Linked DNA regions of Homo sapiens. The protein of the gene in region 3 purifies or fractionates together with the protein of the main gene of each other region. This does not show direct contact. Each region holds a gene or a part of one and is shown on either strand. Other genes may lie near its edges.

Region 1 (3,729 bases), on a different chromosome or scaffold from region 3:
GTACTCCAGCCTGGGTGACAGAGCTAGACTCTGTTTCAAAAAGAAACAAAAACAAATCAGCCGGGCCAGGTGGCTCACGCCTGTAATCCCAGCACTTTGAGAGGCTGAGGCGGGGGATCACCTGAGGTCAGGAGTTCGATACCAGCCTAACCAACATGGAGAAACCCCATCTCTACTAAAAATACAAAATTAGCTGGGCGTGGTGGCGCATGCCTGTAATCCTAGCTACTCAGGAGGCTGAGGCAGGAGAATTGCTTGAACCCAGGAGGCAGAGGTTATGGTGAGCTGAGATTGTGCCATTGCACTCCAGCTTGGGCAACAAGAGTGAAACTCCATCTCAGAAAAAAAGAAAAAAAAAAAAGAAAAGAACAAAAAGAAAAACAAAAAACAAAAAAAATTAGCCAGGCTTGGTGGCACGCACCTGTGGTCCTGGCTACTCAGGAGGCTGAGGTGGGAGGATTGCCTGAGCCTGGGATGTTGAGGCTGAGGTGAGCCATGATCGTGCCATTGCACTGCCGTCTGGGTGACAGGGTAAAACCCTGTCTCAGAAAAAGAAAGAAACAAAAATAGAAAGAAAAGAAAGAGTCATTGATCATACCAGGCTATAGAAAAGTCAAAGGGCCTGAAAAGTGTTAAGTTTGGCAGCTAAGGGGTCATTGGTCACTATGTCAGAGCAGTTTTATTGTGATAGTAGAAGATGGAAGAACATGGGAAAAGTAAGAATAGCAAGGGCTGCTGACCTTTTTGCTCAGATTATTTTTTTCTAGAAGCTTGGAAAGGAAGGGAAAAGAGATAGTGCTGAGGCAAAAAAGAGATTCAAGATTGGGTAAGACATTTTTGCTTCTTGCTTGGAGATGACAAAAACTTACTAAGAGCCTTTGAGGAAGGAGCTAATAGAGAATGCTGGTGAAGATTCAGGAACACAAAGCAATGGGATTTGCCTTGAACTGTTTGGGAGATAAGGTAAGCACTTCACCTGTGTTCTCATTTAATTCTCATAGGATACTATTACGGCTTCCTTTTTACAGGAGAGAAAATCAAGGTTTGGAAAGTTAAATTTGCCCATGTAATTTAGTTACAGAATCTTTATTTTTATTTTTAAAATTATTTTATTTATTTATTTTTGCACCATGGCCTCCCTCCCCCAACTCTAAAATCTGTATTTTTAAACACTATATTGCTGGGCATGGTGGCTCATGCTATTGACGCCAACACTTTGGGAGGCCAAGGCAGGAGGAGTTTGAGAACAGCCTAGGCCACATAGTGAGACCCTGTCTCTACAAGGGAAAAAAAAAAAAAAAAGAAGACAGGTATGGTGGTACATGCCTGTAGTCTCAGCTACTCAGGAGGCTGAAGTGGGAAGATTGCTTGAGCTCAGGTGTTTGAGGCTGCAGTGAGCTATGATTGGGCTACTGCACTCCAGCCTGGGTTACAGAGTGAGACTGTGTCTCTAAATACATTAATGAATAAAACACTAAGTGATGCTACCTCTGGCAGGGGTGATGACATCTTTTCTTATGAGATACAGGAGGGAAAGTGATAAAGATGGGTTTGTAGGTTGGGGAGCAGGGAGTTCATGCTAAATAATCACTTCTATTTTCTTTTCTTTTCTTTTTTTTTTTTGAGACAGAGTCTTGCTCTTGTCGCCCAGGCTGGAGTGCAGTGGTGTGATCTCCGCTCACTGTAGCCTCCACCTCCCAGGTTCCAGCAACTCTGCCTCAGCCTCCCCAGTAGCTGGGATTACAGGCGCACTCCATCACACGCAGCTAATCTTTTGTGTTTTAGTAGAGACAGGGTTTTACCATGTTGCCCAGGCTGGTCTTGAACTCCTGAGCTCAGGCAGTCTGCCCGCCTCGGCCTACCGAAGTGCTGAGATTACAGGCATGAGTCACTGCACCTGGCCAAATCACCTCCATTTTCATGATGAAATGAAAGGCAAATTTTTTTTACAGAGTGAAGAAAAGGAAAGTAGTAAGGACTTTAGAAGGAATAATGAAGTCTGGGAATTGCTGCTGTGGAGTGTAGAGGAGCCAACCAGTGCCTTAGAAAGGAATTGCAAGCCAGGTGCGGTGGCTCATGCCTGCAATTCCAGCACTTGGGAGCCTGAGGTGAGAGGATCACTTGAAACCAGGAGTTCAAGACCAGCCTGGGCAACATGGTGAAACACCGTCTCTACCAAAAAACAAAACAAAACAAAAGCCTGGCATGGTGGTACGCACCTGTAGTCCCAGCCACTTGGGAGACTGAGGTGGGAGGATCCCTTGAGCTCAGGAGGCTGATGCTGCAGTGAGCCATGGGAAAGAAAGAGCAAGAGAGAGAGGGAGAGAGAGGAATTGCTCAGCAGTGCTGAATGTGGAGACCATAAACTCAGAGTAGGGTTGATCTGGTGGTTGTGAGATTTTCCTCCAATAGCGCTTATCTGTTCAGGTAAGCCGGGAGAGAAGACAGTTGGTTGCAGGTAGCGGCAGTAGAGATTAAGAAGATAGGGATATTTCAAGTGATAGAGAGGAAGTAAGGGTATATAAGAGAAATAATGGATTGGAAGAAAAATTAGGGCTCCATGGATTCAAAATCTTGGTGAGTTAGAAGAGAAGGATAGTGGGAGTAGATAGGGGATGTGATTAGAGATGATGACAATTGTTATATTTTGGAGTTTTAAGATTCCAGAGATAGAGGCCAAGGAGGGCAGATCACTTGAGCTCAGGAGTTCAAGACCAGCCTGGCCAACATGGCAAAACCTCACTTCTACCAAAAATACAAAAATTATCTGGATGTGGTGGTGTGTGCCTGTAGTCCCAGCTGTTCGGGAGGCTGAGGTAGGAGAATCGCTTGAAACCTGGAGGTGGAGGTTGCAGTGAGCTAAGGTTGTGTCACTGCACTCCAGCCTGGGCAACAAGAGCGAAACTCCGTCTCAAAAAAAGAAAAAAAAAAAAAAAGGATTCCAGAGATGAAGCAGGTAAGACAATTAGGAGCTCTAAAGTTGATGTATTGGGTTGCATATGGGAATGATGATGAAGTCCACAGAGATTATGGAGTGTACTGTAGCAGAGAGGGAGACTGTATTCTAGGAGTGGCAGGAAGGTCCAGAAGTAACAGCAGTAAGGATGTTTTAAACAAATAATAGTAAAAGTGGCAACTACTTCTCACCTCCTCTGATGTAGTATTTATTACAGCTATAGACAAAATAGGAAGAAACTTTGTACTTCATTTTAGAATTTTGTCTTGTGATAAAGTTTTTACCCTAACATTTTGTCATGAAGATTTTTCAATACACAGAAAAGTCTAAAGAATTGTACAGTAAACACTCGTATACCCATCACCCAGATTTTATAATTAACATTTTATTACAATTTTATTATGTTTGCTCTATGGCATGCCTATCCATCCCTTCATCCTTGAATCCATCTTATTATTATTATTTTTTTTTGAGATGGAGTCTTGCTCTGTCTCCCAGGCTGGAGTGCAGTGGCACAATCTCGTCTCACTGTAACCTCCGCCTCCTGGGTTCAAGTGATTCTCCTGCCTCAGCCTCCCGATTAGCTGGGATTACAGGCATGTGCCACCACACCTGGATAATTTTTGTATTTTTATTACAGACAGGGTTTCGCCATGTTGGCCAGGCTGGTCTCAAACTCTTGACCTCAGGTGATCCACCTGCCTCGCCCTCCCAAAGTGGGATTACAGGCATGAGCCACCATGCCTGGCCCATTTTTGTATTTTTAATAGAGA
Region 2 (3,729 bases), on a different chromosome or scaffold from region 3:
TATGGATCTTTAAATCTTTTGAGTGCATGAATTGCTTTTTGTAGTTCTTGAGCTCATTGCCATAATCCGTTTCTCATATTTCTTTGTTTCATGGAATGACCTCTTTATTTTTGTTTCAGTTCGAGATAAGTTGCGGGAGATAGTAGGAGCATCCACAAACTGGAGGTATGCATCTTTGTTTTCATTCATTCTTTTCATCCCCAAGGTATTATACTACACTGTATTTAGGCTCAGTTGATGGTCTCACAGTGGGGATGGGGAGCCCTATGTTCAGAGATAGGTTGAGAAGTATTTTGCTTGGGGGAGAAGGTCAACATTTCAACATACTCATCAGATGACACCTCATTGTCATGAAAGAAGATGATTTACGTATATTCTGCATTTTCAAAGTGCATTTAGGTGTATATTACTTCACTGATTCTCATAACAAAACTTGTGACGTGCTTACGACATATGTTCCTGTTCCTTTTTTTACACATGAAACTGAAACTCAGAGATTGAATGATTAAATGTCAGGGTTTGGGACTTGAACCCAAGTCGCTAAGTTTCTCTGTTTCATGCAACTTGACTCCTTTATTGCTTCTTGTCAGTTCAAAATTAGTCAGGCCTCCCATATTGTCTTTCTCTTTCTCGCAGTATTTCCTTGTTGTAAAGTAGGATCATATCCCTCTTGGTGTACATAATTTTGAGGCTAAAATGAGATAGAAAAAACACGAGTGATCACTAGATATATAATAATCTATTGTTGGTATAGAAATTATCTAATGACTTATTTTTAAATTCTTTATATGAAAAATTTCACTTTACTAAAAGGTAGAAAGAATGAATACCTGTGTACCCACCACCTGGATTCCATACTTATTAATATTTTGCCAAATTTTCCAATATACACATATTGCCTGAACCATTTCTAAGTAAATTATAGACACCATGACACTTCAGCGTGCATCTTCAGTAAACATTTTATAAAACCAGCCTTCGCTTATCTCCAACAAATAAGACATTCTCTCATGTAATCAAATTGACAGCAATTCCTTGCTAGTATATTACTCATCCATAGTCACATTTCCTCAACTGTTACCATTTTGTGTAATAGATTACTCCTTTTAACAAAAATGTTTTTATAGCTGTTTAAAAAACATCAAGATCCAATAAAGGATTGCATGTTGCATCTGGTGGTTATGACTCTTTAGTCTTCCCTAATCTAGAGTAATGGACAGTCGTCCTTCCCCTATTCTTCCCCCATGAGCTTGACTTTAAGGAGGCCAAGCCATTTGTCTTGAGAATGTTCCACATTCTGGATTTACTGGTGTCATTTAACTCATTCCTCTATCTCCTGTAGTTTTTGTAGGGTAAACATTTCTGGAAATAATACTTTATAAGTTAAGCTTAGAAAGACATCTTAGCTAATGTTCTTATCAACATTGTCGTTCCGTATCCCCTTGTCTTTCTTTTCTCTTTCACCTTAATCTTCTCTTCTTTTTCTTCCCTTTCTGTCTCCTTTTCATGTTATGTTCTTCTTTACCTTTTGTTCTGCCTTCCATACTTCCTTTGGATATAGTCCATTTTCCCTCCTCTGTCTCTCTTTCCTGAAATTGAAGGCAGAGAGAGAGAGAGAACTGGGGCTCAAAGAATCCGAGAACTGTCAGGTGAGAAATGGGAATATAAAGTAGAGTGGCCAAGCCATTCTTTAGCATATATATTTATATGTATATATATATACTATTTTGTCCATCTCTCTAAATTTTTAATTTAATTTCAAATATTCTGGTCTTTGAGTAAACTTTTTGATAAGGGTGAATATATGGCTCATTTGGGTATATCTATATCAGTTTTAAGTTTTCTTTTTTTTTTTTTTTTTTGAGACAGTCTTGCTCTGTTGCCCAGGCTGGAGTGCAGTGGTGTGATCTTGGCTCATTGCAACCTCCGCCTCCCACGTTCAAGCAATTCTCCTGCCTCAGCCTACCAAGTAGCTGGGATTACAGGTGCCCACCACCACACCTGGCTAATTTTTTGTATTTTTAGTAGAGACGGAGTTTTGCCATGTTGGCCAGGCTGGTCTTGAACCCCTGACCTCGTGTGATCCACCCGCCTTGGCCTCCCAAAATGCTGGGATTACAGGCGTGAGACACTGCACCTGGCCTTAAGAATGTTTTTAAGCTTGAGAAATGATACCGGAAATGATCAATTTCACCAAGTGGCAGGTGGGAAGGGAGGGAAGGAAGAGAAGGTGAAAGTAGGCCCAGACCTTCTTTTTCCTCCTTTGATGGTATCTTACTGGCCTGTGTACCACTGGAATTGTGGGCTAGAACTGCTCTTGTTTTATGAATCCTGCATCCTTTCTTCTCAGAGACCATGTGAAGGCAATGGAAGAAAGGAAATTACTTCATAGTTTCTTGGCTAAATCACAGGATGGACTGCCTCCTAGGAGAATGAAGGACAGTTATATTGAAGTTCTCTTGCCTTTGGGCAGTGAGCCTGAATTACGAGAGAAATATTTGACTGTTCAAAACACCGTAAGGTAACACAGTGCTATTTTTATGTATTTGTTTTTATTTCCTTGTTTTATAACAATTTTGAAATATAATTCACACACCATACAATTCGCCTGTTTAAAGTGTACAGTTCCATGGTTTTGATATATTTAGAGAGTTGTGCATCCATCACCACAGTCAATTTTAGAACATTTTCATCACCCTGAAGTGTGTTATTTATTTTTAAAGGGAGACCAACATGATTTGCATTTAATTCACTGTTTGCTTTATTTCACAGATTTGGCAGGATTCTTGAGGATCTTGACAGCTTGGGAGGTACTGGTATTATTTTAGTCTTTCTAATAGATACCTACAGATATACATTGAATTCTGTGACTGGAAAGGGCTCTTTTATTCTTTAACCTGCACAGATGATGATATTCTAAAGTGCACAAAAAAAGAAGGACATCGGCCGGGCGTGGTGGCTCATGCCTGTAATCCCAGCACTTTGGGAGGCTGAGGCGGGCGGATCACTTGAGGTTGGGAGTTTGAGACCAGCCTGACCAACATGGAGAAACCCCGTCTCTACTAAAAATACAAAATTAGCCAGTTGTGTTGGTGGGCGCCGTAATCCCAGCTACTTGGGAGGCTGAGGCAAGAGAATCACTTGAACCTGGGAGGCAGAGGTTGCGGTGAGCTGAGATCGTGCCATTGCACTACAGCCTGGGTAACAAGAGTGAAACTCCATCTCCAAAAAAAAAAAAAAAAAATGGCATCTACTACTTCTGAATTGTCATAATTTTTTTCTTATAAATGTAGATTCCTATTTAATGGAGGTATAGTCTGAATAATCTTTCTTACTAGTAACTTTAAAAAAAGAAAGTCTTAAACTTACAGAAAAGTTGCAAATACAGTATAAAGAATTTTTCTGTGGCCAGGCGCGGTGGCTCACGCCTATAATCCCAGCACTTTGGGAGGCTGAGGCAGGCAGATCACAAGGTCAGGAGATCGAGACCATCCTGGCTAACATGGTGAAACCCCATCTCTACTAAAAATACAAAAAATTAGCCAGGCGTGGTGGCATACGCCTGTAGTCCCAGCTATTCAGGAGGCTGAGGCAGGAGAATCACTTGAACCTGGGAGGTGGAGGTTGCATTGAGCCGAGATCGCGCCACTGCACTCCAGCCTGGGCGACAGAGTGAGACTCCGTCTCAAAAATAAAAAAGAAAAAAATTTTTTGTCCCTGAATTATGTG
Region 3 (3,500 bases):
GGTGTCTCCCTTGGAAGCAGAGCCCATGATCTCCCAGATCATTCCAGCTAAATTGTACCCTTCTGCTGCTCTTTCCACTTGAATGGGCAGTTTTGCTTTAACGATATAAAGAAACACATTATTTCTAAAATGCCACCAGTACCCATAACGAGGTAGCAAGACTTGGAGGTGGCCGCTGGTGCTTTCTGGTACTAATGGGCTTTTTAAAACACAACTCACAGCAAAACAGGGCTGGTCACCACCACCTGGGAGAGGCTTTATTTCTTCACCCAAGGCGGGAATCTCATGTGTCAGCCCAGGGGAGCCGTGGCTGGAGGTTTGATCCAGGACCTGGACAACTGCTCAGTGATGGCCGTGGATTGCGAAGACCGGCGCTACTGCTTCCAGATCACCACGCCCAATGGAAAATCGTATGTTTCACGCGTTTTATTTGGGAGGAGAATGAGTATAGTGGTTCCACCCGTTCCAAGGGCCTCCTAGTTCATTCCTATGTGCCAGCCCTCTGTGGGAGAGGCCCCAATCTGGGTATTGTTGACCTTTCAGGAGGATGATTTTCTGCTCTCTTTAAACAAGCCCGCATGACCCATAAGGGATCCAGCCTGCCTTATCCCATATGGAGATAAGTGAGGGTTTGTCTGTGGCTTTGGAGAAGAGATGACCTACGTGTGTGAGACAGCAACAGAAGTCGTGCTTGTTAGCATAGATTCTCAGAGAGAGAAGGCTGTGGCTACTCCTAGCCTGTTGTAAAGAAGCATTTGTGTTTGGATTGCAGCAGGGGAGAGTAACTATTTTGGTAAGGACGACCTTCCTGAGAAGGCCATTTTTCCAGCAGAAGCAGGAGTTGTGAGAAGTGTACTCCACTGCAGCAGCATCGTCGGCTGCCAGGCTGTTCCCACATGTCCTGTGTACCTGAGGGGCCCCAAAGAGGTGGTACTTTACCAATCCGCAGGCTGTGGCCATTCACAGTAGATCCCATCCCAGTGGGATCCCCTCTCAGAGTGGTGGTTTTTAAACTGCTCCAAGGAGTTCAGGGTCCCATGGAGGGGCTTCAGGGTCCCATGGAGGGGCTTCAGGGTTCACCTGCCTGGGGAGAGGAGTGGCCCTGCCCGTCATCAGAGCCGCTCTTCTCACACTGCATTCTATTAAGATTTGACCTGAACAGCAGGGGTAGGGGTGGGGACGGCATTGGGATGATGTCTCTCCTCCCAGCTTGGCAGAGCAGCTTTAGACCTCATCCTTCCTGCTTTGGTGATGGGAAATGACCTGGGAATGGAGATTCCTGGATGCTCATCATGGTCCTTTGCAGTTACCTCCTCTGGGCCTCACTTTCCTCAGATATAAAATAGGGATAAGATCTATGTTACTCCATCTGCCACAGATGAGAGGAACAAGGGAACTGGCAGATGTGGGGTCTCTTTAAAAAGTTAAAGCCTCGGCTGGGTACAGTGGCTCACGCCTATAATCCCAGCACTTTGGGAGGCCGAGGCAGGTGGATCCCCTGAGGTTGGGAGTTTGAGATCAGCATGACCAACATGGAGAAACCCCGTCTCTACTGGAAATACAAAATTGGCCGGGCACGTTAGTGGTGGCGCATGCCTGTAATCCCAGCTACTCAGGAGGCTGAGGCAGGAGAATCGCTTGAACCTGGGAGGCGGAGGTTGTGGTGAGCCGAGATCACACCATTGCACTCCAGCCTGGTGCAACAAGAGCAAAACTCCATCAAAAAAAAAAAAAAAAAAAAAAAAAAAAGAGTTAACGCCTCCACAAAGGTAGGGCAGTATTACTGTTACCTTATTCCCGGGCCTCCATACGCAGCAGACTTTTCAGTTCTGGGAAAGGAGTGAATGGGCTGCCAAGTCCTTCTTTGGGCATGGTTTGAGGAGTGGCTGGGCTTGGAGTCCTGGTCATCTTGGATCATTAGAGGAGGTCAACAGGTGGATCTCACTGTACAAACACAGATTTGGGCTAGAAGATCCGAGTCCCGCCTTCTCATTTCATAGATGAACATGCTGAGGCCCAGGGAAACGGCCATGTTTGTCCAAGATCACATAGTGAATCAGGGCAGAGCCAGACCTACAAGCCCATTTTCTTTTTTCTTTTTCTTTTTTTTTTTTTTGTTTGAGATAGGGCCTTGCCCTATCACCCAGGCTGGAGTGCAGTGGCACAGTCACCACTCACTGCAGCCTCAGCCTCCTGGGCTCGATCGATCCTCCCACTTCAGCCTCTCTAGTAGCTAGGACTACAGGCACACGCCACCACGCCCAGCTAATTTTTGTATTTTTTGTAGAGAGGGGGTTTCACCATGTTGCCCAGGCTGGTCTCGAACTCCTGGGCTCAAGCCATCCTCCTGCCTCACCTTCCCAAAATGCTGGGACTGCAGGCATGAGCCACTGCACCTGGCCCTGGAACCCCATTTTCTTTCCCTCTCATCATGCTGCCTTCATGGCACTTTTCCTCCCACACCCCAGCTAAGTTCAGTTTATGTAGAGAAATTCCCAGTCACTGAGATCAGGGAAGCACTTAATTACTTAGACACTTTTGTTTCAGGGGAATAATCCTCCAGGCTGAGAGCAGAAAGGAAAATGAAGAGGTAAAAATTTTGTTTGTCATATTTCTTTCCTAACGTGGTGGGTGACTTTGGGATTCAGTGTTCTTTTTTAATGTCCTCTACAGTGGATATGTGCAATAAACAACATCTCCAGACAGATCTACCTGACCGACAACCCTGAGGTAATTATCAGCCACCGGCATCTCAGCCCTTTTCTCAACCTGGAAGGTAAGCGTCCACCTCCTGGGACTGAGTGTGTCTTCCTGTGGATTTTTAGGCAGTCGCGATCAAGTTGAATCAGACCGCTCTGCAAGCAGTGACTCCCATTACAAGTTTTGGAAAAAAACAAGAAAGCTCATGCCCCAGGTAACTAAAGGACAAAGAAAAACTAGCTTTTGTGGAGCCAAATTATTGATTAGGAATACGAAATGAGTTGTTGCTTAATCCACACAAACCAAGGCATGTTTTTCAGCCTGTTTAACAGAAGCAGTAACGATGGCTGGGAAAGGTTAAATACCTGCCTGTGTTCACACCACATTGTGAGTGGTAGAGCCAGGATTCAAGCCTGTCTGATGTCAGCATCCCTGTCCTTTCCACTGGACCATGCTGCTGCAGTCCAAGCAAACAGGACGTGCATGGAGGGTCCTCCTAGTCAGGAGTTCTCCCCACATTTTCTATCAGTGTCAACAAAGTAAGGGAACGAAAGCAAAAATGTTTTTAAAAAATAAGGAAAAAAAAATCGCCTTTTATGTATCCCATGTTAATGTCCACGCCTTATCTGAACATACAGTGATAGTTTTATATGTACATTTATTTTGTATTTGCACATACTTTTTTTTTTTTTAACTATTTCTACATTTTTCAGAATTGTTCCTTTTAGTAACTACACCCTATTCCATCATTTATTTTTTTACTTACTTATTTTTTAATTTTTTCGAGACGGAGTCTCACT

Evidence for each region.
Region 1: the proteins of APPL2 (region 3) and SOS1 purify together in Homo sapiens (co-immunoprecipitation; one study listed by IntAct). This does not show direct contact.
Region 2: the proteins of APPL2 (region 3) and ACOT9 fractionate together in Homo sapiens (co-fractionation; one large-scale study listed by BioGRID). This does not show direct contact.

Annotation. Positions count from the first base shown.
Region 1 is NC_000002.12:39,110,931-39,114,659, reverse strand, and holds part of SOS1 (son of sevenless homolog 1), read left to right. Parts: intron 1-3,729.
Region 2 is NC_000023.11:23,729,608-23,733,336, reverse strand, and holds part of ACOT9 (acyl-coenzyme A thioesterase 9, mitochondrial isoform a precursor), read left to right. Parts: intron 1-119; coding exon 120-165; intron 166-2,350; coding exon 2,351-2,521; intron 2,522-2,772; coding exon 2,773-2,810; intron 2,811-3,729. UniProt on the Homo sapiens protein: Mitochondrial acyl-CoA thioesterase. Catalyzes the hydrolysis of acyl-CoAs into free fatty acids and coenzyme A (CoA), regulating their respective intracellular levels. Regulates both mitochondrial lipid and amino acid metabolism.
Region 3 is NC_000012.12:105,194,675-105,198,174, reverse strand, and holds part of APPL2 (DCC-interacting protein 13-beta), read left to right. Parts: intron 1-221; coding exon 222-410; intron 411-2,547; coding exon 2,548-2,590; intron 2,591-2,648; coding exon of another isoform or gene 2,649-2,673; coding exon 2,674-2,730; intron 2,731-2,825; coding exon 2,826-2,914; intron 2,915-3,500. UniProt on the Homo sapiens protein: Multifunctional adapter protein that binds to various membrane receptors, nuclear factors and signaling proteins to regulate many processes, such as cell proliferation, immune response, endosomal trafficking and cell metabolism.